Linked DNA regions of Homo sapiens: all the other regions are linked to region 1. The links come from fine-mapping of genetic effects on gene expression. A gene starts in region 1. Each other region holds a variant in brackets. All regions are shown on one strand. Distances are from middle to middle.

The links.
Region 2: its variant is fine-mapped to the expression of SH3BP4 in whole blood (TOPMed, PIP above 0.99).
Region 3: its variant is fine-mapped to the expression of SH3BP4 in atrial appendage (GTEx, PIP above 0.99).

The regions. Positions count from the first base shown.
Region 1 is chr2:234,950,232-234,954,361 of GRCh38, forward strand. SH3BP4 (SH3 domain binding protein 4) reads left to right here and starts at 1,786. Exons shown (of 6, transcript NM_014521.3): 1 at 1,786-1,939. LOC105373938 (a long non-coding RNA gene) reads left to right here. Exons shown (of 7, transcript XR_007088132.1): 6 at 367-1,120; 7 at 1,208-1,568. RefSeq lists an enhancer at 2,239-2,888.
Region 2 is chr2:235,049,901-235,054,030 of GRCh38, forward strand. SH3BP4 (SH3 domain binding protein 4) reads left to right here. Exons shown (of 6, transcript NM_014521.3): 5 at 2,662-2,850; 6 at 3,692-4,130. The coding sequence ends at 3,916. Among named protein-coding and RNA genes, the nearest start is that of SH3BP4, 100 kb to the left of the region's middle. RefSeq lists an enhancer at 2,375-3,336. The variant C/T (reference allele first, on the strand shown) is at 1,680.
Region 3 is chr2:235,061,610-235,065,739 of GRCh38, forward strand. No RefSeq gene overlaps it. Among named protein-coding and RNA genes, the nearest start is that of SH3BP4, 110 kb to the left of the region's middle. RefSeq lists an enhancer at 370-870. The variant T/G (reference allele first, on the strand shown) is at 2,075.

The sequences.
Region 1 (4,130 bases):
TGTCTTTTTCAATGTTTTTATAGGCATTTTTTAAAAAACACAGTGTGGATGTCATTTGGGATAGCAGTACTAATAGTAGCTAAAACTTACTGAAAGCTACTGTGTGCCAGGCAGTCTGCTGAGCACTTTACATGCTGCCTTTCATTTTTACACTCATTTAGGAAACTGAGTCACAGAGAGGCGAGATAACTTGCCAGAGATTCAAGCACACTCCAGACACATCCCTACACCAATCAGACCTCCTAGCCACCCAGAAACTCTCCTCTGCTCGGAGGCTTCTCTGCTTCCTCCACCTGCCCCTTCGCCTCACTGCCTCCTTTCAAAATCTGCGGCATGTATTTTAGGGATACTCGTATCCATTTTCAGGAATTCCATGATCTACACACAGATGACACCAAAATCGGAACAGCAATGTCCACCCTTCTCCCGAGCCCTAGGTCGGTGCCTCTGTCCACCTGTGTCTCCTGAAACTTCAACACAGACTTCAAATGGAGTGGCAGAAAACCAGATTCCTTAGGGAAAGGAAGGTCTCCCAGACGGCAGGAGCGGCAGGCCTTAGGGGCAGCCGCAGGGGCTCGGGAGTCTGAACATACCCGGTTTGAATTCAGACTCTGGCACGCCCCATGCGATCATAACATAGTGCTGCACGTCTCAAGCCACCTATAAAAACGGGGACAATAACAATATCTGCCTCGGGGTTAATGGTGAGGACTGACTGTGTGTGTCTCGCTCAGGACCAGGAGCAACAAATGTTGGCTTCTTCCCCGGCAAAGACCCGCGCTTTCTCCTGGGCTCCGGGTTCCCGGGGTGGGGGTGGGCGCAGTCCCGAGGGCCCCAGGCAGTGGCGCAGTGGTTAGACCCCAGCCTCTGGAGTCGGCCTCGGTTCAGATTCTGGTTCTACCCTTCTCCTCTGTGGCGAACCAACCCTCCGAGCTCTAGTTTACTCGTGTGAAATGGACTAGCCAAAATTGGGATTTTTTTTTTTTTTTAGGATTAGATGTGTCGGTCCATAGACGTTGCTGGCCACATAGTTAAGTGGTGCGTTCACTCACTGGGCATTGATGGAGCGCCTACTACGTGCCAGGCCTGTTTTACGCGCCGGGGGCCCAGAGGCGCCCAGGTCAGACAAAGTGTAAACGATTCCGACCAGAGCCCTTCAATCTGCATTCCGCTTCGCAGGAAACTCTCCTCCTTTTATGATTTTCAGCCGGACTGCCTTCCCTGTTGTTAGTTTGTAACTTTCGCTCCGGCCCCCGCAGCCTCGCGCCTGCCTTCCCTCCACTGTCCTCAGCCAAGGTGTAGTAAAGCGTCTCCGAACGCGGCGCGACCCTCGCCCACGCCCGCTCGCGGGGGGACCGCACCGCCCCAGGGGTCCTCGCTAGGGGTTCCCGGAGAAGGGGTGGGAGATGGGGGTGCGGGGGGGCACAGGAGCGCGGGCCAGCACCCAGACCTGCTCGGTACCGGGGACCCAGACCCGAGGATGCCGGGCGGCCAAGGCCCCGCTACCCTGGCCGGCTCCGGGCGGAGGAAGAAGAGGAGGCGCCCAGACTGGATACCCGCCTGGACCCGGAGCCGCGGCACCACCCCCAGCCCGCCCCACGCTCGCCAGCCTCAGACGGCCGCGCCCCGCCCCGCCCCTCTCCCGAAGCCCCGCCCCGGCGCGGGACCACCCCCTCCGCGGCCTCAGCTCCGGTCCTGGCCCCGCCCCCCGCGCCCCCGCCCCCGCCCCCGCCCCCGCCCCCGCCCAGGCGCGGGACCACCCTCCGCCCGCCGAGGCGGGGGCCCAGCGCGCCCGGCACTCTCGGCGGTCCGGGCCCCTCGCCACTACCGCCGCCGCCGCCGCCGTGAGTCCCGCGGAGCCGCGCGCGCCCCCGGCTGGGCCGAGCCGCTGGCCGACGAGCGGAGCCTCAGGAGCCGGCGGGGACGCCATGCGAGCCAGGTAGGCAGGCGGCGGCGGGGAGCGCCTCGGGCGGCAGGGCCCTGGGGGCCGGCGGGGGCGCGGGGTCGTGCTCGGGGGCTTTGCACTCCCTTGCGGGCGCAGATCGTGCCGCGGGCGCCGATCGTGCCACCGCCGCCTGAGTTCGGGGCTGCGCGGGTGCCTGGGCGTGGGGCGGCTTCGGGGAAGCCTCGCGCGCCCCTCGCCGCTCCCCCGGGCGCTCGGGTCTCCCTGGTGCTGGTGGGCAGGGACCCGGCCCGGGGTTCCGGGCGCCGAGCCGCAGCCCTCCGCGTGCGCTCGGGCCGCCCCCCAACCCCGGCTCTGGCCACTTCCCGGCGGGCGGCCCTGCGGGGTGGCCTCCCTGGGCAACCGGACGCGTCCTCGGGCGCAAATCGGGGGGCGCGCTCGGCTCACGGGGGCCGTGGGGGCCACGGGAGGGCGTGGAGGGGTCGGGGCGCCCCCCTCGAGCGGCGCTGGGGAGGAGGGAAGGACGCGCGGTCTCCGGTTAAACTTGTTGGTGACAATGCATATTTCAACTTCTTCGGAGATCCCTCCTGTGAGGATGAAATTGAAAACTCCGGTTTCTGGCTTGGCGATCGGGTGACCGAGCAGCCGCGAGGTGACAGCGCCGGCGGCCCGCGGGCGGGGACCGGCTGGGATAGAGGCGCGTTGTTCTCTGAGCGATGTTTACCGAGAAGCCCGCTCCGCGGCACGGGCGGGTGTCAGTTGGGACCCCAACCCTGGGTCCCGCGGCTCCTAGCCCGGGGCCTGCGGTGTAGACGGGGGTTGGGGACAGGCCCAGCTGGCCCTGACCGGGTGTCGGGCGCCCAGAGATGCCGCGCGGGAGGAGCCGCGGGAGAGCCGCCGGACTCAGCGAGCAGAGGGTCGTGGAGCCTGATGGATCGATGAGATCTGAAAAAGAACACTGTGCGAGATTGTATTCCTGCTTATTCTTTCCAAGTTAGTAGGCAGATTGGAACTATAGAATTTATCCGTGATAATAATAAAGTTCGCATAACTTTTGTTCTGATTACAGAAACAATGTATGCTCAGGACAGAAAGCTAGAGATAAAGAGAAATATAAACAGCAAACAGGAAACCATCCCCAATCCCACATTTTTTACCAGCCTTGTCACAGCCTGGCAGATTTGAACATTAAGTTAGAACTGGAGCCATTCTTGCCTAAACCAGAGAATCCCTGAATGCAGCCGCCCCTTCTCACCCTTGTGACCGTCTCTGAGCTCCAAAGTTTGGGTTTTTTCCTTGCTCCCTACCCGGGCAGAATCTCTGCTGGCCACGAGTCCCCTTCCCAGTGGGCTGGGGGCTTTCCTTGAGATCCGTGGCCCAGATGAAATGATGGGAGAGGCCTGGATCCTCACCGCCCTCTGTGGTTTTGGTTCCTTGCCTTGTAAAAATGAAGGTAATGATTCTCAATCTGCTTCTCAAGCCACCATAAAAATTAATGGGTGGTTTGCAGAGCGTTTTGACATCCGTGGATGGACAGCGGCTGTACTTTAAGGCGCTGGGGAACATTCTACTGTTCCTCATTGCAGTGGTCATGCAGTGTAATAGGCTGCCTCTCACCTGGCCGTCCTGCCCAGGAAACAGACTCCAGGAATGTCCAGTGGAGCCCTGAGGACAATATTCCTGGTTCCTTGCTCAGTGCCCTCGGGACTCGGCCAAATCCCTCAGAGTGGGAAGCTTGGGAAGAGGCAGCGCTCTCCAATCCCCCTCCTCCACCTCTGCTTTCTGCTTGTAGGCGGATTTCTTAAAGTAAGGGGGCAGTGATATTTAGGCGGGACCCCAGATTGCCCACTGCCTGATGTTTGTGGGTCTGTGGAATGCCCGGGCCGTGCTTATCCAAAAGAACAGTTAGTTCTGGGAGGACGCATAAACTGAACAAACCTGGCTTCCTAGAGATTTGTATGGCTCACTTGTTTACTAAATGAACAATGACCGGCTGCGGAGAAGCCCAGGACACTTCTGTGAGCTTTATTATTATTTTTTTCCTGTTGTCCCAAGACTACATTTTAGTGATCTTATAAAACAATAAATAAGAACCCATGCCATTTGTTAATTCTGGGTACCAAAGGCCCAGGTGGGGAGAGGTACTTCACAGCATGCCTTTTGTCCCCAAGCACCCATGCCACCCCCACAACAACAAAGTAATCAGGGTAGAAGATCCTCTTTCTGT
Region 2 (4,130 bases), 100 kb after region 1:
TGTAGAACAGATGCCTTGCGGCCCACACAGCAGGGAGGACCTGGGGTTGGGTGCCCAGAGGCAGCTCTGGCTCTGGCATTTCTCGGTGTGAAACCCACTTCCCCTCTCTCAGCTTCTTCTGTAAAGTGGGTTGAACTCAGCCTCTGCTTCATGGGGGGCTCTGGGGAGCGGAGGAGCTGAGTGTCTGGCTCACAGCAAGCCCTGGGTTTCTTTTTTTTTCTTTTCTTTTTTTTGAGACGGAGTCTCGCTCTGTCCCCTAGGCTGGAGTGCAGTGGCGCGATCTCAGCTCACTACAAGCTCCGCCTCCCGGGTTCACGCCATTCTCCTGCCTCAGCCTCCTGAGTAGCTGGGACTACAGGTGCCCGCCACCACACCCGGCTAATTTTTTTTGTACTTTTAGTAGAGACAGGGTTTCACTGTGTTAGCCAGGATGGTCTCGATCTCCTGACCTCGTGATCCACCTGCCTCAGCCTCCCAAAGTGCTGGGATTACAGGCGTGAGCCACCGCTCCTGGCCTAGCCCTGGGTTTCTAGTAGCTTCTACAAAAACAAACGGCCACCAGGTCCTCAAACCCCCTTCTGGCCAGCCTCGTTGGTAGCCAGCTGTCAGCCTCTCATATCTAGGGAGGCATCAGAATGATCTGTCGCTCCTGGTTCTTTTTAAATTCCATGGATTGAGATGCTGGGGGCCCACCTAGAAGGATCGTGAGTCACCTACTCTGGCTAATGCATGCCACAAGTCGCCAAAAAGGTCACCTTTTTGTATTGTTAGACTCCCCCCAGGTAAACATAAAGTGTACATTAGAATGCTCAGTCTAAAACAGCTGGGCTCGCTTTGAAGTAAGCAGCCCAGCCGACCGCATGAGCACTAGCAAGACGACCCTGCTATCGGCACAAAATAGTTGGCCAAAGAGCGCCGGTACCAGCGGTGTGGTTGGCGGGGGTGGGGGGTTGTTTGTTTTTTAGCACACTTTGGAGTCCTAAAATGACAACCTCAGGTGCTGAAACAGAGCGTAGAGAGAAAGAACGCCAGGACTGGTGACTTTCCTCTTCTCTTAGCAACTCGCCTGTCCAGGGGCTCACGGGAGCCTCAGAAACCGTCTCTGGGCTGCCTCAGGCCACTGTGCCCTGGAAGCCAAGCCTTTCCCATTGTTGGATGAGAGAAAGCTTTAAGGGTGGGGGTGAGCTGTGCCTTCTATGGCAGAGGAGACTCAGACAAGAATCAGACCCAGCATGCGGCTCTCCTGCCTTCCTGGTGACGTCATCCTGACTGGCTCAGAGCCACACGCTAACCATGTGTGGCCTCATTTATAATTAGGATGGCGCCAGAGTCGCTTGCATGACACCCAGTGGCAGTCATGTGACTTGGCACAGTGTACAGGACTAGCAGGCCTGCTGTCTTGTGCTAGCCAATTTGATTTGTTTCTTTAAACCAGAAGTGTGAGTTTGACCCCAGCCTGGGGTCCCCCAGATATATTAGCCATATGTTCAATGCCTGTCCCATCCAGCCCCCGTTTTTAGGAGGGAATTGAGTCCCAAGGCGGCCACGTGGTTGTTCCAGCCTCAGCTGGGACTTCACTGTCCCAGCAGGGCTGTCTGTCCTATTACCTCCCCTCTGACTTCCTCTGTGGTTAGTAATCCCTGTCCTAAAGACACAGTAGAAAGTTCTTGCAGCTTTGA[C/T]GTGGGAGCAGTCCCACCAATTGTGGAAACCGTTTTCTCATGTTGCACAGTCCTGGGGGAGGTCTGTGCATCTCCTGGTCACCGTGGTTCTTGGTGGTACACCCTGTCTCTGACCAGGGCCTCTTCTGTTCTCTGTCTTCTTCTCCCTGGGTGGTCCCTGCCTGAGTCCCCCAGCCTTCTACCCGCGGTGCTCTCTAACTGGCCAATGTCAGCACCGCACACTCAGCAGGTCCAGCTCGCCCTCCATCCGTCTCGGCCTCAGGCTATGGTGTCTATTTGGTGAAATGCATTCGTTTCTCTCTGGTGTCCCCAGAGAGTGGGAGTGGTGACAACTCTAATCCATATTCACCCTGTCTGTTAGCTTCCTGGGGCTGCCAAGACAAATGACCACAAACCAAGGGACATCAAACAACAGACACCTGTCCTGTCACCATTCAGGAGGCCACAGGTCTCAGTCAGGGGTCCCAGGGTGGCCTCCGTCTGGAAGCAGTGGGGGAGAAGGGGTTGCAGGCCTGCCTCTCCTAAGCCCCACTGGCTCAACCCTCCTTCTTTTCCTTGGCTTGTTGCCGCATCTGTCCCGTCTCTGCCTCCGTCTTCACACGGCCTTCTTCTCTCTGCCTCTCTGTCTGCTTTCTCTTCTTATGAAGACGCCAGTCCTTGGTGACTTCCTCTAATCCAGAGGGACCTCATCTTAATTCTATCTGCAAAGACCCCATTTTCAAGTAAGGTCACGTTCTGAGGTTCTGGGTGGATGTGGGCTTTGGAGGGAGACACTGGTGAACCTGGCACGCTCTGCACATCATCTCTTTTCTCCCGTGAATCCTGGCAGTGATCGATTTCAGGGGACATTTGGTAGTAGGCCAGGGAACATGGAGAATAGAGAGCCCATGGCCATTCCTGCGCCGTCTGCTGGAATTCTGCGGGGAGCAGAGCCTGCCCCACTCCCTACACTGTCTCACGCTGTGTGCCTCTTCCTCTGCAGGCCCTACTGAAGATGGACTGCCAGGGCCTGGTGGTCAGACTCATCCAGGACTTTGTGCTCCTGACCACGGCTGTAGAGGTGGCCCAGCGCTGGCGGGAGCTGGCTGAGAAGCTGGCCAAGGTCTCCAAGCAGCAGATGGACGCCTACGAGTCTCCCCACCGGGACAGGAACGGGGTTGTGGACAGCGAGGTGAGCAGCGGCTGAGCTTCGAGCTCACCGAGCCCCTCTGTCCCTGGGTTCCGTGGACCCATGCAGTGCAGCCATAAAAAGTCTTGCCTCGCGGCATTTCTGTGAGGGTGCAACAGGTGGAAATGTGCACGCATGTGCCCAGCACTGGGTGTGCCTCACTGAGTGGGAGCCATCCTCCGGATTGGTTGTCGTGAGCCCTGGCTTTAGGATGTCAAGGCTGTTCCACACGACATGGGAAGGACAAACAGAACTGCCTGTCCCTTGTTCATTTTGATCTTAAATTACCATCCGTAGGGTTGAATAATGCAATAACACATACACAGAGGACTTTGTGAGCCGCTCTGGACTGGAGTGATACCTGGTATGTTACATAACTTGGGCCAAAGCCGGTGTGGCCGGGCTCTTGCTCAGAGGTCCTTTGTGTTCTCGCATGTTTGTGGAGGGCACCCTAGTAAGCTTCCTGGAAGACGGTTCAGGCTTGCAAGATCCAGGAAGCAGGAAGTCCCAAGGACAAAGCTGTCTTTTATGAATGGGATGAATTTCCAAACAAATGGCACAGAGAGAAAGTGCCATAAAGATTGTAAGGAAAGAGAAGTCCTTTCTGTTTATTCATTTGTTGCGCACCTACTCTTGCACAAAGCCCTGCTTTTCCCTCTGGAATGTGCTGACCCTGGCCCCGAGATGGTTCCACTGTTTCTTCTGTGGGCTTGTCTCACTCGTGAAAGAGTGTCCCAAATAGTGACTACTGAAGCTGCACCAAGTAATAGGAACAAATCTCGTTCTGTCTCCTAATCTTTCTTCCTCTCTCCCTCCTTTTGTTTTTTACAACTCCACCTCCCAGGCCATGTGGAAGCCTGCGTATGACTTCTTACTCACCTGGAGCCATCAGATCGGGGACAGCTACCGGGATGTCATCCAGGAGCTGCACCTGGGCCTGGACAAGATGAAAAACCCCATCACCAAGCGCTGGAAGCACCTCACTGGGACTCTGATCTTGGTGAACTCCCTGGACGTTCTGAGAGCAGCCGCCTTCAGCCCTGCGGACCAGGACGACTTCGTGATTTGAATGGGTCCCCTCCCCTCCTGCTGCTCTGGAGTGCAAGCCCTCTTCTGCCCTGCGTGCCCTGCTGTCACCGCGGAGCTGAAGAGGGAGGAAGGGGCGGCTGCTCAGACAGATTTAGGGCCCGCCAGCTAGGCTACACCCATCATGCGCCGCCCTCCTCCATCGAGGGAGAGGCCTGAAGGGACTGCCTACTGCAGCTCGTTGCCAATCACATAGC
Region 3 (4,130 bases), 110 kb after region 1:
CACTCCAGCCTAGGTGACAAGAGCGAAGCTCCGTCTCAAAAAACAAACAAACAAAAAAACAGGTTTCAAGTAGCGTTTGGCACCCTTGCCCCTCTGCCCTGCCCGTGAGGACACAGCATTGCTCCCCTTTGATGGTAGCAAGGCTCCGTCTTGGAAGCAGAGAGCAGCCCTCACCAGCCCACGAACCTGCCCAAGCTGTGATCTTGGCCTCCCAGCCTCCAAACTAAGAAATACATTTCTGTTGTCTTGACACCACTCAGCGCTGGGCATTCGTTAGAGCAGTGCAAATGGACTAAGAGAGATGAGAAGACGGGCCAGTGGCGAGCAGCCTGGAATGGCAGACAGGGAGGCAGAGGCCGTGGGACCTTCAGGCAGTGCCTGGCTGGGCCCGAAGAGTCCCAGGAATGGGAAGGCAGACAGAGATGGAGGAGGGAGGGTCAACTCAGTCTGCCGTTTGGCTGGACAGGAGCGGGTTGGGCCAAGAGGCACTGGTGTCCTGAGAGAATGTGGCCTAAGCTGTGTTGAACGGCTTTGCTGTACGTGGGGAGAGGAGGGGTGGAGGCTGTGGTGTGGGGAGAAGCTGAGTAAGACACAGATGGGGGAGCAGGAGGGGAAGCAGATCTAGGACTCGGCTCTGAATGGGAGGATGTAAGGTGTAGCTGGAAGATCATGGACCTGAGGTTAAAGGCCTTTGAGAGACGGCCAGTGAGAAGAAAAGGTGAAAATACGTAGAAACCTGGTCAGCAGCCCCTCATGCATCCACCCATTGAGTTGGTCATTAGGCGTCTGATTCAACTGCCTTCCATCGCTTTTCTTCCCTCGCCACAGCTACTGCTGTACTTCTGTGCACTGTCACCTCTCCCTGTAACTGCAATTCCAGCCTTATCCCATCAGCTGATCCTCCATGGCCCCCAGAAGGGTCCTTCTAAAATGGATTCAGGCCAGGCACGGTGGCTCACACCTGTAATCCCAAGCACTTTGGGAGGCCAAGGTGAGCGGGGCACACAAGGTCAGGAGTTTGAGAGTAGTCTAACTAATATGGTGAAACCCTGTCTCCACTAAAAATATAAAATTAGCTGGGTGTGGTGGTGTGTGCCTATAATCCCAGCTACTTGGGAGGCTGAGGCAGGAGAATCACTTGAACTTGAGAGGCGGAGGTTGCAGTGAGCAGAGATCATGCCACTGCACTCCAGCCTGGGCGACAAGAGCAAGACTCCGTCTTAAAATAAAATAAAATACAAAATAAGTTAAAAATTGGATTCAGGCCAGGTGCAGTGGCTCACACCTATGATCCCAGCACTTTGGGAGGCTGAGGTGGGTGGATCACTTGAGGTCAGGAATTCAAGACCAACCTAGCCAACATGGTGAAACCTCATCTCTACTAAAAGCACAAAAAGTTAGATGGGTGTGATAGCACACTCCTGTAATCCCAGCTACTAGGGAGGCTGAAGTGGGAGGATCGCTTGAACCCAGGAGGCAGAGGCTGCAGGGAGTCGAGACTGTGCCACTGCACTCCAGCCTAGGCAACAGAACAAGACTCTGTCTCAAAAAAAAAAAAAAAAAAAGGATTCATACCCCTCTCCTGCTTAGCCTCTGCCATCAGCAGTCCCCTGGTTTCAGCCGATGAATGGAGGCTCCCAAATGCCAGCTTGGAGGTCATTGTGGGTCCCGATGAAGCTTTCACTGGTACCTGAAAAATGAGAGAAGAAAAGACAGCGCACAGAGGATTTTCATGAGGCCACATTGATGCACATCAAATAACTGTCTCTGATCCTGAGATTAAGCCCTTCACTCCTTTCTCGTGTTAAAATGTCCTATATCCTGGTGACTGAAGGTGACAGGGGATTGTAGTGGCAGGAGTTGTTTTGGTGTTTTAATGCCTCGCTTGGTAAGGTGAAAGGCTGGCCGATAATACATCACACATTGTTCCGGACTTGTGTTGTTGAACACAGGGAGGGAGAAACGGGACGCCTGCCTGCAGCATTTCCATGGCTGTCTGCCCTTGTGGCTATTTCTGCCCTCACTGGGAGGGTGGCCTTTGTCATATCGTCTGTGTGCTCAGCACCTTGGAAAC[T/G]CTCTCGCTATATTTGGGACCCTTAAAACATAAACTCACAGCTTCCCTAGCAGCTAAATATAAGCGTATGACCAGAGTCCACCACGTGGAGCTTGGACTCTGAGGCTCCGATTCATGCAGAAGGAGGGAAGAGAGCCGGCGGGAGCGTCAGGGCAGCAGTGGTCACGGGGGTGAGCTCCTGACCCGGCCGAGGGTCTGTGGGGGACACACAGCCATGGCAGTTTGCTCTAGTGCCAGGCACGCCCACTGCAGCCACACTTTTGTCACCAGGCCAGTTCTGGACAGGGTTCCTGGAAGCTTAGCACTGAGTGTGGGGCTCAGCTCTCCCAGCCCTACTGTGAATCGCCCAGGTCCCCTTTAATAAGCCCCTTTGGTGAAGAATCAACACTTGGCAATTTTGTTGCCTTCAGATGAACACCTTGACTTCCTGCTCTGTTTACTCCTTCAGGATTCAGCTCTGCAAATCACGCTCCTAGGTGAGTCTTCTCAGATGCTCCCTCTGCGAAAGGTCCTTCCTTTGTTTTCCCATAGCTCTCTGACCTCACCACAAATAGAACTTGAATCTCTCTGTATCACAGCTGAGTCTTTGCCTGGTGTACCCCACAGACTGTGAACTGGACAAGGAGGATGTCACAGCGCTGGACTCACACTCAATAAATTCAACCTCACACTCAATACATTCTTGGATGAATGAAATCTTCAGAGAAATTTCCTCAGGGGCATGGAGGCCAGGTCCCAGTGCCTGAATAGCTTTGTGAGTACCTTGTGGTGCTCCTTTCTTTTTTTTATTGAGATGGATTCTCGCACTGTCGCCTGGGCTGGAGTGCAGTGGCACAATCTCGGCTCACTGCAACTTCTGCCTCCTGGGTCCAAGCGATTCTTCTGCCTCAGCCTCCGGAGTAGCTGGGATTACAGGTGCCCACCACCACGCCTGGCTAATTTTTTGTACTTTTAGTAGAGACGGGGTTTTACTAGGTTGGCCAGGCTGGTCTCGAACTCCTGACCTTGTGATCTCCCCGCCTCGACCTCCCAAAGTGCTGGGATTACAGGCGTGAGCCACCACCCCCAGCCGACTCCTTCTTTCTTAATCTAACAAATACATGTTTTGTGGGTGAATCCAGACCGTGTTCTAGAAAGTTTCATCTCTACTCGTTTTTAGTTTGTTGGTCTTCCCGCTATAATGTTACGTATGTTTAACTCAGCTGAAGCTCACACTTTGGAATAACAAGTGCTTGCTTTATTTTTCACACACCCACATATTTTTCTGCACTCGAAGTGCAAAATCAGTTCACACCCAGGGTGTAGACGATCCCACGTAGGAGAGAATAGCAAGTGTGGGTACGCTTGGTGGACATCTGTAGCCTCAGGTGAGCTTTCTGGGGGTTGAAAGTTCTCTCTGAACAGTCCCCTGACACCTGAGCCAGCCCAAGGCAGGCAGAGGGGGGATAGGGAGGTTGCCTGGCAACTCCAGGAGGCTCAGAGCCATCCTTTTTGTCTAGGAGAGAAAAGATCCAGAGAACTGAGTCACTTACATTTTTTATCCCGAGCCTGGTTAGAACCAACATACACAGAATGAGGAATTTACAGCAAAATTCACACCGACAGATCAGCATAACAACCTGTAACACTGACAGGTACAAACGCAATTCTGTGCCTGTTTATGGGAGTGCTGGACAGCGTGGATTCTTTGCACAGCCAGTGAATTCATAAGTATATTATTATGCATTAAAAATATCTTTAGAAAGTCAGATTCCAGTTCTTCCAGGAGCTTTGTACAACACCTTTACATATTCCTCATTATCACATTTTCCATGGATAGATGAGCTGAGAAATTAAAGACAGGAAAGGGGATGTGTGTTGAGGGACTCAGGGCACTCGACCTACTTAAAAATAATTCACACGGACCCTGGAGATTTACGGATTTTTTCCCAGGACCTGGGAGATAGCTATCATTTTTCAAATATTAGGTTTATACAGAATAAACCATAAATATTAGGTTTATACAGAATATTAGGTTTATACAGAGATATACCAAAGGTTGATGTCACTATGCCAG